Regions from separate parts of the Homo sapiens genome. Here region 2 is linked to region 1. The links come from fine-mapping of genetic effects on gene expression. Tissue or cell type: lung. Region 1 holds a variant in brackets; the other region holds the start of a gene. All regions are shown on one strand. Distances are from middle to middle.

Region 1 (8,100 bases):
AGAGCTGGGGCTGGCAGCCTGGCTCCCCTGGGGAGGCAGTGGGTGGGGGAGGGGAAGGAGGGCTGGGGAAGGGGTGGGGTGGTCACAGCCACAGCCGGGGAGGGTGGGGCTGGGGACTCAAGGATGTGGGCTGGCGCTTCCCGGCACTGTGCACAGCAGGTTGGGGCCCCCAGCCCCCTCCCAACCAGCTGGTGTCCCTATGGGCAAGCTCAGACACACTGACCCAACAGCAGACAGGCAGACAGAAGTACCCCTTTGACTTTGTCCACAGACCAGGGCTAGGTGGTACCCTTGGGAGGGGTCCAAGAGAATGGCCGCCGGGGTGTGGTGAGGAGGGGAGCCAGCTGTTTCCCTCAGATCCTGGAGGCTGCAAAAGAGAGCAGTGGCCAGCCTCAGGAGGCCTGGCAGGAGGACGTGCCCAGAGGTCTTCACGGGTGGGTTGAACAGAAGCCACCACCGGAGAGGAGGTTTTTCTCTTCTGCCAAGATCACACCCTCAGGCCCCAGCTGGGAGGTCTCCAGGGCGGGGAAGGCTCGGCTAGCCTGACCCTCAGTAAGGGAGGGAGGGAGGGGGCTTCTGGTGGGCATCTCCAAGTGGGTGCCAGGAGCCACGGCCCAACCACACTGTTGGAAATTGGACTTGGAGGTTCCAGAGTCTGAGCCCCTTTTCTCGTTTGTGAGGGTGTCACCCACTGTCCTCCCTGTGAGGGCAACAGTGCTCCAAGTTCTTGGACTAGAGAGATCCTGACCTGGGAGGGGCCAGGTCCACAGCCAGGCCTGGGAGAGAGCAAAGTAGGTGGGACCAGTAGGTGGGACAACGAGGAGCAGCTGAGTCCTGGAGCCTGCAGAGAGAGAAGGAACAGTGGATAGAGGGATGTTCCACCTGGGTGGGCAACCAAAGGGCCCCTTCCTGTGCCATTTTGTGACCTCGGACAAAGTCTCTTTCCCTCTTCAAGTCTCAGTTTCCTCATCTGTAAAATGGGAGGGGCATGAGATGGCACTAGAAAGTGTCCCCACTGGGGTAGCTGGTTAAAAATACAGATTCCCAGATGTCCCTTCACATCTATGAGTCACATTCCCCTGGACTAGGGCCTGGGTATCTGGAATGTTACACAGCTCCCCCAGGCCCAGGCTTTGGAAGCCAATGGGTTAGATAATTTTAAGGTTCCTCCCAGCCTTAAATTAGACCACGGCGCTAGAAGGAGCATTTTCAGAAGTGGCTGAAGGATTGTTACAGGAGCTGGGAGTGGAAGGAGGCTTTGGACTTAAGGCAGAATTAGAAATCCTGCCTCTTAGCAGCTATGTGACTTCAGGCAAGTTACACATACACTCTGAGCCAGTTTCCCCTGTAACATGGGGATAATAAATCATGCCTCCCAGGCTGCTGTGAGGATTCAGTGGGTCACAGATGTGTAGGTGCTTTGTAGATTGCAAATCGCTGTCCCCCAAAGGGGAGTAGAGAAGTGTCTCTTTCTACTTTATCCTGTCCCCGAGTCAGCTCTGCAGTCTTCCTGTGGGGTGACAGCATGGGTAGGTGGGGAGAATCTACATGGGTCTGTGGCACATAGGTCCCAGGGATCCAGTACTAGGTCAGAGCCAAACATTAGGCAGTGAACAAGGTCAGTCTTTAAGACCCTCACAGTGTTGGGGTCCATTCAGCTCCCTGCTCCCTGAGATCCCGGCTCCTGGGATCAGCCATGGCCCTGAGTCCTCAGGCTTCTTTGGGAGTCAGACATGCCTGGATCTAAATCCCAGCTCTGCCCTGACCAGCTCAGGGAGTCAGTCGGTAAATATTTATGTAGCATTCATAGCCCAGGCCCCAGGGTCAGGTGATACAGCGATAAACAAGACAGATGTGATCCCTGCTCCTGAAGAGCCCACACTCTTGTGGGGGACACACTAAACAGCCAGTCACGCAAGTAATTGATTATAGTTGCAATGAATACTATGAAGGTGAAATACATAGGGCTCTGAGAGGATGTAGCAGGGGCCAGGACAAGGCCAGAGGTAGGATGGAGCAGCAGAGTTTTTCCGATGAAGGTGGAAGAAGGATCAGAGAATGTCCCTTTTCACATTCTTAGGTCCCTCTCTCAGCATCCTTCTTGGGTCTGGAGAAGAAGAAAGAGCCTCAAGGGAAAAGGCAGGGTTGATTGCTTTGCGTACCTCATTTGTGTGCGTTCATTCATGCAACAAACTTTTTTAATTTAATGTTTTGGAGAAAGGATCTCACTCTGCTGCCCAGGCTGGAGAACAATGGCACGATCATAGCTCAGAGCAGCCAGCCTCAACCTCCTGGGCTCAAGTGATCCTCCCACCTCAGCCTCTTGAGTAGCTGGGACTACAGGTGTGCACCACCATGCCCAGCTAATTTTTAAATTTTTGTAGGGACGAGGTCACGCTATGTTACCCAGGCTGGTCTCGAACTCCTGGACTCAAGCGATCCTCCTGCCTCAGCCTCCCAAAGTGCTGGGATTACAGGTGTGAGCCCCTGCGCCTGGCCAAACAGCTGTTTTTTTTTAAGCGCTGCTGTAGGCCATGTGCTGTTCTGAGTGTTGGGAAATACATATAGTGGTGAATAGGACAGATATCCTTGCTTTTATGGTGTTTACCATCTTCCAGGGGGTAGTTTCTGTAAGACTGGGGAGGATAATCATATTGATCTCATGTTTGTCTGGGGAATTTGATGAGATAATCTATATAAAGTGCTTGGCCCAGTGTTTGGCAACAGAAAATGTCCCCAAACTATGGGCTTTTATTGTTGACTCCCGGTGTGATTGCTCTGACCTCAGGCATCTTCACTTTTTCTTTGCAGCTCTTATCCCACTAGTAATTAAGTCATTTATAATGATCTGATCAGTGTCTGTCTGTCCAGTCCTTGTCCAAAGTAGGTACTTTATAACTAATGAGTGTATGAATGAATGATGTTACTTTTATCTCTGAGCCTCCATTTCTTCATCTGCAAAATGGGGTTATTAATAGCCCCTACCTCACAGGATTGGTATGAAGAATTAAATGAAACGATGCCTGGACAGCTTCCAGCCCAGTACCTGGCGCGCAGTAGGTGCTCACTAAACCTGAGCTGCGATGGTCCTTTCCAGGCGCTGTCCACGCCCCGAGGCCTGGGCTCAGGCCGAAGTTGCTCCACAGCACCCCCAGCTGACAGCCAGCGACTGGCAGAGCCCCCAGGCACGGGGGCCCTCTCTCTTCCAGGTCAGCCGGGTGTCTGCGCTGGACAGAGCGCTGAGGGAGCCGGGGGTGGTACCTGGAGGAGGCTGGGCCGGTGGGCAGGGGTTGAGCTGTGGCCACCAGACCATTTGGGGAATTCAGATCTATTGCCCGTCTTGTTGCCCACAGAGATCTCCAGTGTGACAGCCCAGGCGGCAGAGCCGAGGGTGAGTGGTGGGGGTTCTCCTGGAGCCCTTTCGGGGTAAGAAGGAGGGAGGCCGTGCCCTTGTTAGAACTTCCTGGCCTTCTCCTTAAGTTTGATCACCCTGCTGATGTGCTTCCCTCTCAAAGGCAGGGGTCCTGTTCTTCCTGAGTGCATAGCCAGATTCCCAAAGGGGATGAGCTGTCAATAAGTGAAACTGGGCCGGGCATGGTGGCTCACGCCTGTAATCCCAGTATTTTGGGAGGCTGAGGCAAGTGGATCATCTGAGGTCAGGAGCTCCAGACCAGCCTGGCCAACTTGGTGAAACCCC[G/A]TCTCTACTAAAATACAAAAATTAGCCAGGTGTGGTGGCGCATGCCTGTAATCCCAGGTGCTTGGGAGGCTGACACCTGAGAATCGCTTGCACTAGGAGGCGGAGGTTGCAGTGAGCTGAGATCACGCTGCTTCACTCTAGCCTGGGCGACAGAGTGAGACTCTCTTCCAAAAAAAAAAAAAAAAGTGAAACTGGGCCCATGAGGGGCTCACTATACACATGGTGGTTTGAGAAAGGCTGGGAGTCAGCAAGGGGATGGGGCTTGGGGTGGGGAGGGGAGCTTGGTAAGGAGATGAGACCTCAGGAGGGAGGGGTCCAGGAGCTCATCAAGGATATGGGAAGCTGATGAGGATGTAGGTGTTCAGTAAGGGACCTCCTGCTCTTCCTGCCTGGCAGGTCCTGGTCCCGGCTTCTCGCACCCTCATGTCAGCCCCGGCCCCGCCCGGCGGCCTGCGGAGGACAAGGTCAGGATGCGTGTGAAGCCCCAGGGCCTGGTGGTGACTTCCAGTGCCGTGTGCAGCTCTCCTGACTACCTCCGGGAACCCAAGTACTACCCCGGCGGCCCCCCCACCCCCCGGCCCCTGCTTCCCACCCGGCCCCCTGCCAGCCCACCTGACAAGGCCTTCTCCACCCACGCCTTCTCCGAGAACCCACGCCCACCCCCACGCCGGGACCCCAGCACCCGGCGCCCACCAGTCCTTGCCAAGGGGGACGACCCGCTGCCCCCACGGGCAGCCCGTCCTGTCTCACAGGCCCGCTGCCCCACACCGGTCGGAGACGGCAGCAGCTCCCGACGCTGCTGGGACAACGGGCGGGTGAACCTGCGACCAGTGGTGCAGCTGATTGACATCATGAAGGACCTGACACGCCTCTCCCAGGACCTGCAGCACAGTGGTGTACACCTGGACTGTGGTGGGCTCCGACTGAGCCGCCCGCCTGCACCGCCACCCGGCGACCTACAGTACAGCTTCTTCTCCTCACCCAGTTTGGCCAACAGCATCCGTAGCCCTGAGGAGCGGGCCACCCCACACGCCAAGTCGGAGCGGCCCAGCCATCCCCTCTACGAGCCTGAGCCTGAGCCTAGGGACAGTCCCCAGCCTGGCCAAGGCCATAGTCCCGGAGCCACGGCTGCGGCCACGGGTCTGCCCCCAGAGCCTGAGCCAGACAGCACTGATTACTCAGAACTTGCTGACGCCGACATCCTTAGTGAGCTGGCCTCCCTCACTTGCCCAGAGGCCCAGCTGCTAGAGGCCCAGGCCCTCGAGCCACCATCGCCCGAGCCGGAGCCTCAGCTCCTGGACCCCCAGCCCCGCTTCCTGGACCCGCAGGCACTAGAGCCGCTCGGGGAAGCTCTGGAGCTGCCACCCCTGCAACCTCTTGCTGATCCTCTGGGGCTGCCGGGCCTGGCTCTCCAGGCCCTGGACACCCTGCCTGACTCCTTGGAGTCGCAGCTGCTTGACCCCCAGGCACTCGACCCCCTGCCCAAGCTGCTTGACGTCCCAGGTCGCCGTCTGGAGCCCCAGCAGCCCCTGGGGCACTGCCCACTGGCCGAGCCCTTGCGCCTGGACTTGTGCTCACCGCACGGCCCCCCCGGGCCTGAGGGTCACCCCAAGTACGCCTTGCGGCGCACTGATAGGCCAAAGATCCTGTGTCGCCGGCGGAAAGCCGGACGGGGACGCAAGGCAGACGCCGGACCCGAGGGCCGCCTACTGCCCCTGCCTATGCCCACGGGGCTGGTGGCTGCCCTGGCCGAACCCCCACCACCACCGCCTCCTCCACCCCCTGCCCTGCCAGGCCCAGGCCCGGTCTCAGTCCCAGAGTTGAAGCCGGAATCTTCCCAGACCCCAGTGGTCTCTACCCGCAAAGGCAAGTGCCGGGGCGTGCGGCGCATGGTGGTGAAGATGGCCAAGATCCCCGTATCGCTGGGGCGGCGGAACAAGACCACATACAAAGTGTCTTCCTTGAGCAGCAGCCTGAGCGTGGAGGGCAAGGAGCTGGGCCTGCGCGTGTCGGCTGAGCCCACCCCGCTGCTGAAGATGAAGAACAATGGGCGGAACGTGGTAGTGGTCTTCCCACCCGGTGAGATGCCCATTATTCTCAAACGTAAGCGCGGCCGCCCTCCTAAGAACCTGCTGCTGGGTCCCGGCAAGCCCAAGGAGCCAGCTGTGGTGGCGGCCGAGGCAGCCACTGTGGCAGCGGCCACCATGGCCATGCCAGAGGTAAAAAAACGACGGCGGCGGAAGCAGAAGCTGGCATCTCCCCAGCCATCCTATGCAGCAGACGCCAACGACAGCAAGGCCGAGTACTCAGACGTCCTGGCCAAGCTGGCCTTCCTGAACCGCCAGAGCCAGTGCGCTGGACGGTGCTCACCGCCCCGCTGCTGGACACCCAGTGAGCCGGAGTCGGTGCACCAGGCCCCCGACACCCAGAGCATCTCCCACTTCCTGCATCGTGTGCAGGGCTTCCGGCGGCGTGGGGGCAAAGCAGGCGGTTTTGGTGGCCGGGGTGGGGGCCATGCGGCCAAGTCAGCCCGATGCTCCTTCAGTGACTTCTTTGAGGGCATCGGCAAGAAAAAGAAGGTGGTGGCCGTGGCAGCCGCTGGGGTCGGGGGCCCGGGCCTTACTGAGTTGGGGCACCCACGCAAACGGGGCCGGGGGGAGGTAGACGCTGTGACTGGGAAGCCAAAGCGCAAGAGACGGTCCCGGAAGAATGGGACTCTGTTCCCAGAGCAGGTGCCCAGTGGCCCAGGCTTTGGGGAGGCAGGTGCTGAGTGGGCCGGGGATAAGGGTGGTGGCTGGGCCCCTCACCATGGGCACCCAGGCGGACAAGCTGGCCGAAACTGTGGGTTTCAGGGGACCGAGGCCCGGGCCTTTGCCTCCACTGGGCTGGAGAGTGGAGCCTCAGGCCGTGGCAGCTACTACAGCACGGGTGCACCCTCAGGCCAGACCGAGCTCAGCCAGGAGCGCCAAAACCTCTTCACCGGCTACTTTCGCTCGCTGCTCGATTCGGATGACTCCTCCGATCTCTTGGACTTTGCCCTCTCAGCCTCTCGCCCAGAGTCCCGGAAGGCATCGGGCACCTATGCAGGGCCACCCACCAGTGCCCTGCCTGCCCAGCGGGGCCTGGCCACCTTCCCTAGCCGGGGAGCCAAGGCCAGCCCAGTGGCAGTGGGTAGCAGCGGGGCTGGGGCGGACCCCTCCTTTCAGCCTGTCCTGTCCGCGCGCCAGACCTTCCCACCAGGACGAGCAGCAAGCTATGGGCTAACTCCAGCCGCTTCAGACTGCCGGGCAGCCGAGACCTTCCCCAAGCTGGTGCCCCCGCCCTCAGCCATGGCCCGCTCACCTACCACCCACCCGCCTGCCAACACCTACCTGCCCCAGTACGGCGGCTATGGGGCCGGACAAAGCGTATTCGCCCCAACTAAGCCCTTTACAGGCCAGGACTGCGCTAACAGCAAGGACTGCAGCTTCGCCTATGGCAGTGGCAACAGCCTCCCTGCCTCACCCAGCAGCGCCCACAGCGCCGGCTATGCCCCACCGCCTACCGGGGGCCCCTGCCTGCCACCAAGCAAGGCCTCCTTCTTCAGCAGCTCTGAGGGGGCCCCCTTCTCTGGTTCAGCCCCCACGCCCCTGCGCTGTGACAGCCGGGCCAGCACAGTCTCGCCCGGTGGCTACATGGTACCCAAGGGCACCACAGCCTCTGCCACCTCTGCAGCCTCTGCCGCCTCCTCCTCCTCCTCCTCCTTCCAGCCCTCGCCCGAGAACTGTCGGCAGTTTGCGGGGGCTTCTCAGTGGCCTTTCCGGCAGGGCTATGGAGGCCTGGACTGGGCCTCAGAGGCCTTTAGTCAGCTCTACAATCCCAGTTTTGACTGCCACGTCAGCGAGCCCAACGTGATCCTGGACATCTCCAACTACACACCGCAGAAGGTGAAGCAGCAGACGGCTGTGTCGGAGACCTTCTCTGAGTCATCCTCCGACAGCACCCAGTTCAATCAGCCGGTTGGTGGCGGGGGGTTTCGGCGTGCCAACAGCGAGGCCTCAAGTAGTGAGGGCCAGTCGAGCCTGTCCAGCCTGGAGAAACTGATGATGGACTGGAACGAGGCATCATCTGCCCCCGGCTACAACTGGAACCAGAGTGTCCTCTTTCAGAGTAGCTCCAAGCCGGGCCGTGGACGGCGGAAGAAGGTGGACCTGTTCGAGGCCTCACATCTGGGCTTCCCGACATCCGCCTCTGCCGCTGCCTCAGGCTACCCATCCAAACGGAGCACTGGGCCCCGGCAGCCGCGAGGTGGACGGGGCGGTGGGGCCTGCTCAGCCAAGAAGGAGCGGGGTGGCGCAGCGGCCAAAGCCAAGTTCATCCCCAAGCCACAGCCAGTCAACCCACTGTTCCAGGACAGTCCTGAC
Region 2 (8,100 bases), 190 kb after region 1:
GTATCCACCCACCCCTCACAGTTCCTGCACCCTCAGCTGCCAGTGCCCAGCCTGGAGTAATAGCTGCTGTGCCCCCCCTCCCCCAGGTGTTTCAGAGGCGCCAGGATGGTTCTGTGGATTTCTTCCGCTCTTGGTCCTCCTACAGAGCAGGTTTTGGGAACCAAGAGTCTGAATTCTGGCTGGGAAATGAGAATTTGCACCAGCTTACTCTCCAGGGTGAGTTCCCAGCAGGGTCCTGGAGTCTGGGGGTTACTGTCTGCCATCCTGAATCCCTGCCCCACCCCCAAGAACTGAGGATTCCTCCATCCCTGCCTCCCCTTCTTTCCAGGTAACTGGGAGCTGCGGGTAGAGCTGGAAGACTTTAATGGTAACCGTACTTTCGCCCACTATGCGACCTTCCGCCTCCTCGGTGAGGTAGACCACTACCAGCTGGCACTGGGCAAGTTCTCAGAGGGCACTGCAGGTGAGTGAGCCTAAGGGGAGCAGAGGAAGGAGGCTGGATCCTTTCCCAGTGCTGCCACTGCCCCCATGAATGACCCAGGGCAATCCTGTCTCCTCTGTGGGCCTTAGTTTCCGCATCTGAGAAATGGCAATCATGAAACAGGATGGTGCAACAGTGAAGAATTTGGGATCTGGAGGCAAACAGACCTGAGTTTGAATCCATCTCTGCCATTTAGTACTTATGTGACCTTGGGCAAGTCCTACCCCTCCACTGAGCCTCAGTTTCCTCCTCTATAAAATGGGCAGGGAGGCCGGGCACGGTGGCTCATGCCTGTAACCCTAGCACTCTGGGAGGCCGAGGCGGGCAGATAACTTGAGGTCAGGAGTTCAAACCCAACCTGGCCAACATGGTGAAACCCCGTCTCTACTAAAAATACAAAAAAATTAGCCGGGCGTGGTGGAGGGTGCCTGTAATCCCAGCTACTCGGGAGGCTGAGGCAGGAGAATCACTTAAATCTGGGAGGCAGAGGTTGCAGCGAGCCAAGAGAGTGTCACTGCACTCTAGCCTGGGCGACAGAGCGAGACTCCATCTCAGAAAAAAAAAAAAAGGCGGGGGGAGCGCAGGGAGGCAAGGAGGAAGTTTTGGGTGCCGCCTGAGGCTCTGTTGAGTGTTAGTGTTCTCTGCTTTGGAAGAGGAACCACGGAAGTCTTCTTTCAGAGAAACAGTGACTATTGGGGAGAGATTTAAAAGAGGGAAGTGGTTATGAGGGAGTGCCTCAGGGAACCACCTTTCCTGGCCAGGCACCTAAGAGGTTCCTCCCAGCTTTTCCTAGCAGAGTTGCTCAGACTGGATGGGAGCTGAGAGAAGACAAAGGAGCTAGAGGGGGGCCGGGGATTCTGGAGGGGGTAAGACAGGGGGAAAAGCTGGGAGCTTTGGAGCCAGACAGTCCCGAGTTCAAGTCCTGCCGCTGCTTCAACCAGCCGAGTAACCCTGCGCAAACAACCTGGCCCCTTGGTGTTGCTCGTGGGGCCTGATAAAATTCAACTCTTAGTTGCTCTGAGACTCCCATGGCATTATATCTCCAAAGGTGCCAGGCGTGGTGCTGGGCACCAAGGTGCTTTCCATCCCTTCCCTGCTAGGGGATTCCCTGAGCCTCCACAGTGGGAGGCCCTTTACCACCTATGACGCTGACCACGATTCAAGCAACAGCAACTGTGCAGTGATTGTCCACGGTGCCTGGTGGTATGCATCCTGTTACCGATCAAATCTCAATGGTCGCTATGCAGTGTCTGAGGCTGCCGCCCACAAATATGGCATTGACTGGGCCTCAGGCCGTGGTGTGGGCCACCCCTACCGCAGGGTTCGGATGATGCTTCGATAGGGCACTCTGGCAGCCAGTGCCCTTATCTCTCCTGTACAGCTTCCGGATCGTCAGCCACCTTGCCTTTGCCAACCACCTCTGCTTGCCTGTCCACATTTAAAAATAAAATCATTTTAGCCCTTTCAAGACTCTTCCAGTTACTGGGAAAAAACCCTAGAGGGCAGAGCAGGGACACAAGTTTCAGCTCCATTCAGGGAAGAATTTCCTTCCAGTCAGGAAGATGGAAAGGACAGCCTCTAAAGTAGTGAGGCTTCTGTCTCTGGAGGTGTGCAAGACAAGGCCAGAGGGGCATATAGTGGAAGGACTGGAGGAGATTCAAGCATCCATTGACAATTTCCTGAGGCTCTCTGGGTCCTGCAAGTGGATGGCTTTGTGGCAGGAATTGCACAATTGCACAGCTTTTTTGTTTGTTTGTTTGTTTGTTTGTTTTTGAGACGCAGTCTCGCTCTGTCGCCCAGGCTGGAGTGCAGTGGCACCATCCTGGCTCACTGCAAGCTCTGCCTCCCAGGTTCACGCCATTCTCCTGCCTCAGCCTCCCGAGTAGCTGGAACTACAGGCACCCGTTACCACGCCCGGCGAATTTTTTGTATTTTTAGTAGAGACGGGGTTTCATCATGTTAGCCAGGATGGTCTCAATCTCCTGACCTCATGATCTGCCCTCCTCGGCCTCCCAAAGTGCTGGGATTACAGGTGTGAGCCACTGCGCCCGGCCGCTTTTTTTTTTTTTTTTTTTTTGAGATGGAGTCTTGCTCTGTCGCCCTGCCCAGGCTGGAGTGCAATGAGCCAGAGGGGCATACAGTGGAAGGATTAGAGGAGATCCAAGCATCCATTGACAATTTCCCGAGGCCCTCTGGGTCCTGCAAGTGGATGGCTTTGTGGCAGGAATTGCACAATTGCATAGCTTTTTTTTTTTTTGAGATGGAGTCTTGCTCTGTCGCCCCGCCCAGGCTGGAGTGCAATGGCACGATCTCCACTCACCGCAACCTCCATCTCCCAGGTTCAAGTGATTCTCCTGCCTCAGCTCCCAAGTAGCTGGGATCACAGGCAGGTGCCACCACACCCAGCTACTTTTTTTTGTATTTTTAGTAGAGACGGGGTTTCACCATGTTGGCCAGGCTGGTCTCGAACTCCTGACCTCGTGATCCACTCATCTTGGCCTCCCAAAGTGGGATTACAGGCATGAGCCACCGCCCTGGCTGGGAATTGCACAGCTTTCTCAGCCTGTCGGTTGCCCATGCCTGTCCTTTGTAAGTTGTCTGTTTTCCACTCCAGCCTCTGTTGCAGGCCAAGTTCTCAAACTCTACCACTTCCTGCCTATCTCATTGGGTGTCAGTTCGAATCCAAGGTCAAACCAAGGAAGGTACCTTTTTCTTCCACAAGGCAACAGGGCAATGAAACAGCCATTGAGTAGCATTTAAGCAGTTTATTTGCCCAAAGCCACATTCTAGTAAGTGGCAGAATTAAATAGTTAAGAGTCTGACAGGCGGTCCTGGGTTTGCACCCTGCTGTCATGTGCTGAGTGATCCTGGACAAGTTATTCAACTTAAGTCCCCAGTTCTTGGTTTCAGGGTCCACTGAGGCTTCTACCAGGTTGCTGCCTCACTCATTAATTCACACAAGAAAGTTGGGGACTCTTGGGGATTTGAAGCTGAGAAGCTGCTGTAGTGCAAAGGGCTGGGGTTGACTCCTTCAAGGGGTGGCTAAAGAAATGTTTAGAGTTGTTTAGAGTAGGAAGTGCTTCTCAGGTCCCATGGCCACGTTCTGCCTAGAAGTCAAAGGTCAGCGGGGGTCCACAGCAGGTTGGGTCCTGGGGAAAGCAGCCCCCTAGTGACAGTTAAGGCTCAGATGCCAAGTCCCACTCCAGGACTGAAGGCTTTCGGGCAAGCGGCCTAGGGTGTAGGTTTCCCCCATCCCAGTCCCTCCCTGCCTGCGCTCACTGGGCCCGGGAGGACACCCATTGTTCATCATGCTCTGCGCACCCTGATGTCTCTAGAGAGCCATTCATTCAACAGATACCTGCAGAGCAGGGCCTGCATATCGAACCTTTTCCCTAGCCCTGGCCTCCTCACACATTTTATGTGCACTTGCTGTGAGCAGTCCACAGTCTTTGGCGTGCACAGGGGCACAGGCTGTTCCGGAAGCCGCCAGTCTCCAAAGTTCTGGCGGGAGAGAAGGGAGGGGAGAGGCTGAGTCTCAAGCCGCTAGGGAGCGGCTCTGCCCCAGGGCCGAGGGTGGAGCTTTCTGGGTCGGCCGGGAAAGGGCTGGGCTTAGCCTACAAGTGAAGGCAGGGCAGCGTTGGCGGGCGCTCCCTTGAGAAGTCCAGGTGGCGGGCACCTCCGAGCCGATTCCCAGGATCCCCCAAGTGGCTCTGAGCTGCCGATCACCGGATGCCCCAGATTCCTGGGACCCAATCCCGGATTTCAGAACCTCAGGACCTTGCAAGTCCGAGCTAGGATTTCTCCCTGGACTTTAGATTCCTGGAACGGGACGTCAGGCCGTATTCCGGATCCCTAGATCCCGTGGGAGATTCTCCGATTCCGAACGGATTCCAGATCCCAAGATTCCTGATCTGCCGGCCCAGGCTCCTGCCCCGCCCCCGGTTCCCAGTGCGCGGCGCCCCGCGCCTGAGCGCCCCCGCATGGCGGGGCCGTGTCCCCGGTCCGGGGCGGAGCGCGCCGGCAGCTGCTGGCAGGACCCGCTGGCCGTGGCGCTGAGCCGGGGCCGGCAGCTCGCGGCGCCCCCGGGCCGGGGCTGCGCGCGGAGCCGGCCGCTCAGCGTGGTCTACGTGCTGACCCGGGAGCCGCAGCCCGGGCTCGAGCCTCGGGAGGGAACCGAGGCGGAGCCGCTGCCCCTGCGCTGCCTGCGCGAGGCTTGCGCGCAGGTCCCCCGGCCGCGGCCGCCCCCGCAGCTGCGCAGCCTGCCCTTCGGGACGCTGGAGCTAGGCGACACCGCGGCTCTGGATGCCTTCTACAACGCGGGTGAGAGCGCTGGGGGCGGGGCCGGATCCGGGCGGGACTCAGGGTCCTGGGAGGGGACCAAGCCGGGCTCGAAGGCTCAAGGGAGGGGCCGAGAGGGGTACCGGGTCTAGGGGACTTAAAGTGAGCTAAAGCTGAAGGGCTTGGGACAGGGCCGTGAAAAAAGTGGGATTTAGGGGATCTGGGGCGCGGCCGGGCTCGGGACGAGACAGGGATCCGGGCGCGGCTCTAGGGCTCGAGGTTGGGGCTTAGGCACCCTTCAGTCGGAGCGGTGCCCAGCCAGCGGGGCAAGGATGGGGAGGGGCTTTGGAACTCTGGGGCGGGGCGGGGAGCGGCGCGGGGCTGTGGTGTCTCAGGGGTGGGGTTGGAGAACTCAGCCTCACCCTCAGGAGAATGTCACGCGGATCTCTTGAGGACAATTACTGGGAGAGGAGCTTGGACTTAGGGAAAGGGGCCGGGAGGCTGGAGTTCAGGAGTCCTAGCATACTATTTCCAAGGATCGGGCTAGGAGAGGCAAAAAGAGAAGCGAAGGGGCCCGACGGGACTGGATACTGGGTGAGGGAGCTTAGGTTAAGTGGCCTCAGCGGCCCAGAAAGAATGGGCGGGGAAGGGGCGGGGAAGTGGGCGGGAAAGGATGGCTCAGGGGCGGGGCCAGAAGGAGGCTATTCCCCCGCGAGTCACTCCTCCCTCCAGCCAGCCCGGATGCTCGGCCCCCATACTTACTTGCTTATGCTAGAGTCCAGTAGCTGTGCTTCCTGGATGTCCATGAAATCGTAGCCTAAAATGAAGGCTGACCCGACCACTCGGACACAAAGATACAATTATCGACAGACACAAATCGCATACATGTTGACTCATGCAGGCCCTAGCAGACGCTGTCACACACACAGATACAGTCAGACATAGTAAGCTATACATGTCACAGATATACACATACATACATTTAGGCACAGCGTTGTCTATGCACACTGATGGTAGCCCCTTTCAAGAGCCTGTGCTGAAGACCAAAGGGAGGGGACTTCTATGTTTGCGCAACTCCCACCTCCTAAATGGCCCGTAACAGACTCAACTGGTCCACAGCCTCCCTTCCCCCATGCCAGGTGCTCACAGGCTCTGAACCGTGGCCTGAGGGTCCCAACCCAGTGAGCCCAACTCCTCTCCTGCAACACTACAGAGATCAGTTCTGTGAAAGTGCCAGGGGAACCCTAAAAAGGGCCGACTGAAGCCCAAAGCAGAACCAGACCCTACTGGAGTCCCACAGCAAGGCAGGTCAAGCCAGGATGGACCCCGGCTCCTTCCCCATCAAGCTGGGCTTCAGGGATCAGCGCCACCCCCTCTGTGCCTGCAGATGTGGTGGTGCTGGAGGTGAGCAGCTCGCTGGTACAGCCCTCCCTGTTCTACCACCTTGGTGTGCGTGAGAGCTTCAGCATGACCAACAATGTGCTCCTCTGCTCCCAGGCCGACCTCCCTGACCTGCAGGCCCTGCGGGTAGGTGGCCTGGGGCTGGTGGAGGCAGGCACAGGGCTGGGGTAAGGCCTACACAGAACACCAGTATCTGACTGTCTGCCTCCTGCAGGAGGATGTTTTCCAGAAGAACTCGGTGAGCAGAATCCACCTCTCACTCAAAAGTGCCCTTTGACTTCCGCTATGACCTCTGACCTCCACTAATCCCCCTGGCCTCCTCAGTCACCTAACCCCCCACTGACATCCCAAGTATTCCTCTGTTTCCTGTTGCCTCCTCTCATGACGGGTGCCCCTTTCCTGCGATTCCAATTCCCACTGATGCTGACCTTTGATGCTCTCACTCCCCTTGTCTAGCCCTGTGCTGACCTCTGACCTCACTGATTCCTGCCTCCCTCCCACCAGGATTGCGTTGGCAGCTACACACTGATCCCCTATGTGGTGACGGCCACTGGTCGGGTGCTGTGTGGTGATGCAGGCCTTCTGCGGGGCCTGGCTGATGGGCTGGTACAGGCTGGAGTGGGGACCGAGGCCCTGCTCACTCCCCTGGTGGGCCGGCTTGCCCGCCTGCTGGAGGCCACACCCACAGACTCTTGGTAATGAAGGCCCCCAGGGAGGGTGCTCCAGGAGGGGGCTGGTGAGGGTATGGTGGGCTGGGGCTGAGGTACAGGCCCCACCATTCTCTCTCCCTGCCTCCCCTACCCTGGGCATCAGTGGCTATTTCCGGGAGACCATTCGGCGGGACATCCGGCAGGCGCGGGAGCGGTTCAGTGGGCCACAGCTGCGGCAGGAGCTGGCTCGCCTGCAGCGGAGACTGGACAGCGTGGAGCTGCTGAGCCCCGACATCATCATGAACTTGCTGCTCTCCTACCGCGATGTGCAGGTGCGTGGTGTTCAGAGAGGCAGTAGGGCAGCTGGCATTTGAGGTCAGACAAACCCAAGTTCAGTTCCTGGCTGGGCCACTTGCTCACTGGTGGCTTTGGGCAAATTATCCAATGTCTCTGAGTGTTGGCCTCCTTATTTGTTAGAGAGGATGAGCATGTCGCTGCCTCCTGGGGCAGTTGTGGGGTTGGGAACGCCCAGCATGGGGCATACAGTAGGTTCTCCCTGTGAGGTGTGTCCGCTGGGCCTGAGGGAGGCGTGCAGAAGATGGTGGCTGGGTGGGATGTCAGGAGTGGGACAGGACCCTGGCTCAAGGTTCCTTGGGGCCTGGAGGCCCATGATGCCAGTGCTTGCCGTTCCCTGATGCAGGACTACTCGGCCATCATTGAGCTGGTGGAGACGCTGCAGGCCTTGCCCACCTGTGATGTGGCCGAGCAGCATAATGTCTGCTTCCACTACACTTTTGCCCTCAACCGGTGAGTGGCAGAGCAAGGGTTAGGTCATAGCCACATAAAGGTTTCCGAAACCTAGGTCTCTGCGTGCAAAGCCATTGCTGTCTGGGATCACTGCTGTTCGGGGAATTTGCTGACCGGGGTCACTGATGTCAATAGGTCCCTGTTGTTCTGAGTTACTGCTGCCTGGGTCGGGGTGGGGGAGGTGGTGCTGCCTGTGGTATGGTCACCGCTGTCCAAGATCACTGCTCCTAAGAGTCATCGCATCTAGGAATCACTTCCATCTGAGGTCACTAGAGAGGTCAGTGCTGGCCAGGGTCATTATCATTTTGAGGTCATTATTGTCAGGCCCCTGGAAGGGTCCCTGCTGGTTCAGTGTCTAGAGGTCCCTGGACAGAGTAGGCCAGGGCCATCAGGGAGGGCCTGAGCCCATCTTTTCCCTAGGAGGAACAGGCCTGGGGACCGGGCGAAGGCCCTGTCTGTGCTGCTGCCGCTGGTACAGCTTGA

Evidence for each region. PIP is the estimated chance that this variant, and not a neighbour inherited with it, causes the effect.
Region 2: it holds the start of MAP3K6, and the variant in region 1 is fine-mapped to the expression of MAP3K6 in lung (TOPMed, PIP 0.97).

What each region holds. Positions count from the first base shown.
Region 1 is chr1:27,548,183-27,556,282 of GRCh38, reverse strand. AHDC1 (AT-hook DNA binding motif containing 1) reads left to right here. Exons shown (of 9, transcript NM_001371928.1): 6 at 3,098-3,209; 7 at 3,354-3,391; 8 at 4,094-8,100. The coding sequence starts at 4,168. Among named protein-coding and RNA genes, the nearest start is that of AHDC1, 52 kb to the left of the region's middle. RefSeq lists an enhancer at 313-868. The variant G/A (reference allele first, on the strand shown) is at 3,698.
Region 2 is chr1:27,362,959-27,371,058 of GRCh38, reverse strand. MAP3K6 (mitogen-activated protein kinase kinase kinase 6) reads left to right here and starts at 4,098. Exons shown (of 29, transcript NM_004672.5): 1 at 4,098-4,801; 2 at 6,147-6,286; 3 at 6,375-6,398; 4 at 6,665-6,855; 5 at 6,974-7,142; 6 at 7,511-7,617; 7 at 8,038-8,100. The coding sequence starts at 4,462. It overlaps FCN3 (ficolin 3), which reads left to right. Exons shown (of 8, transcript NM_003665.4): 6 at 87-216; 7 at 329-463; 8 at 1,582-1,949. The coding sequence ends at 1,823. RefSeq lists enhancers at 3,232-4,173, 4,174-5,117 and silencers at 4,370-4,479, 4,510-4,729, 4,800-4,849, 5,440-5,509.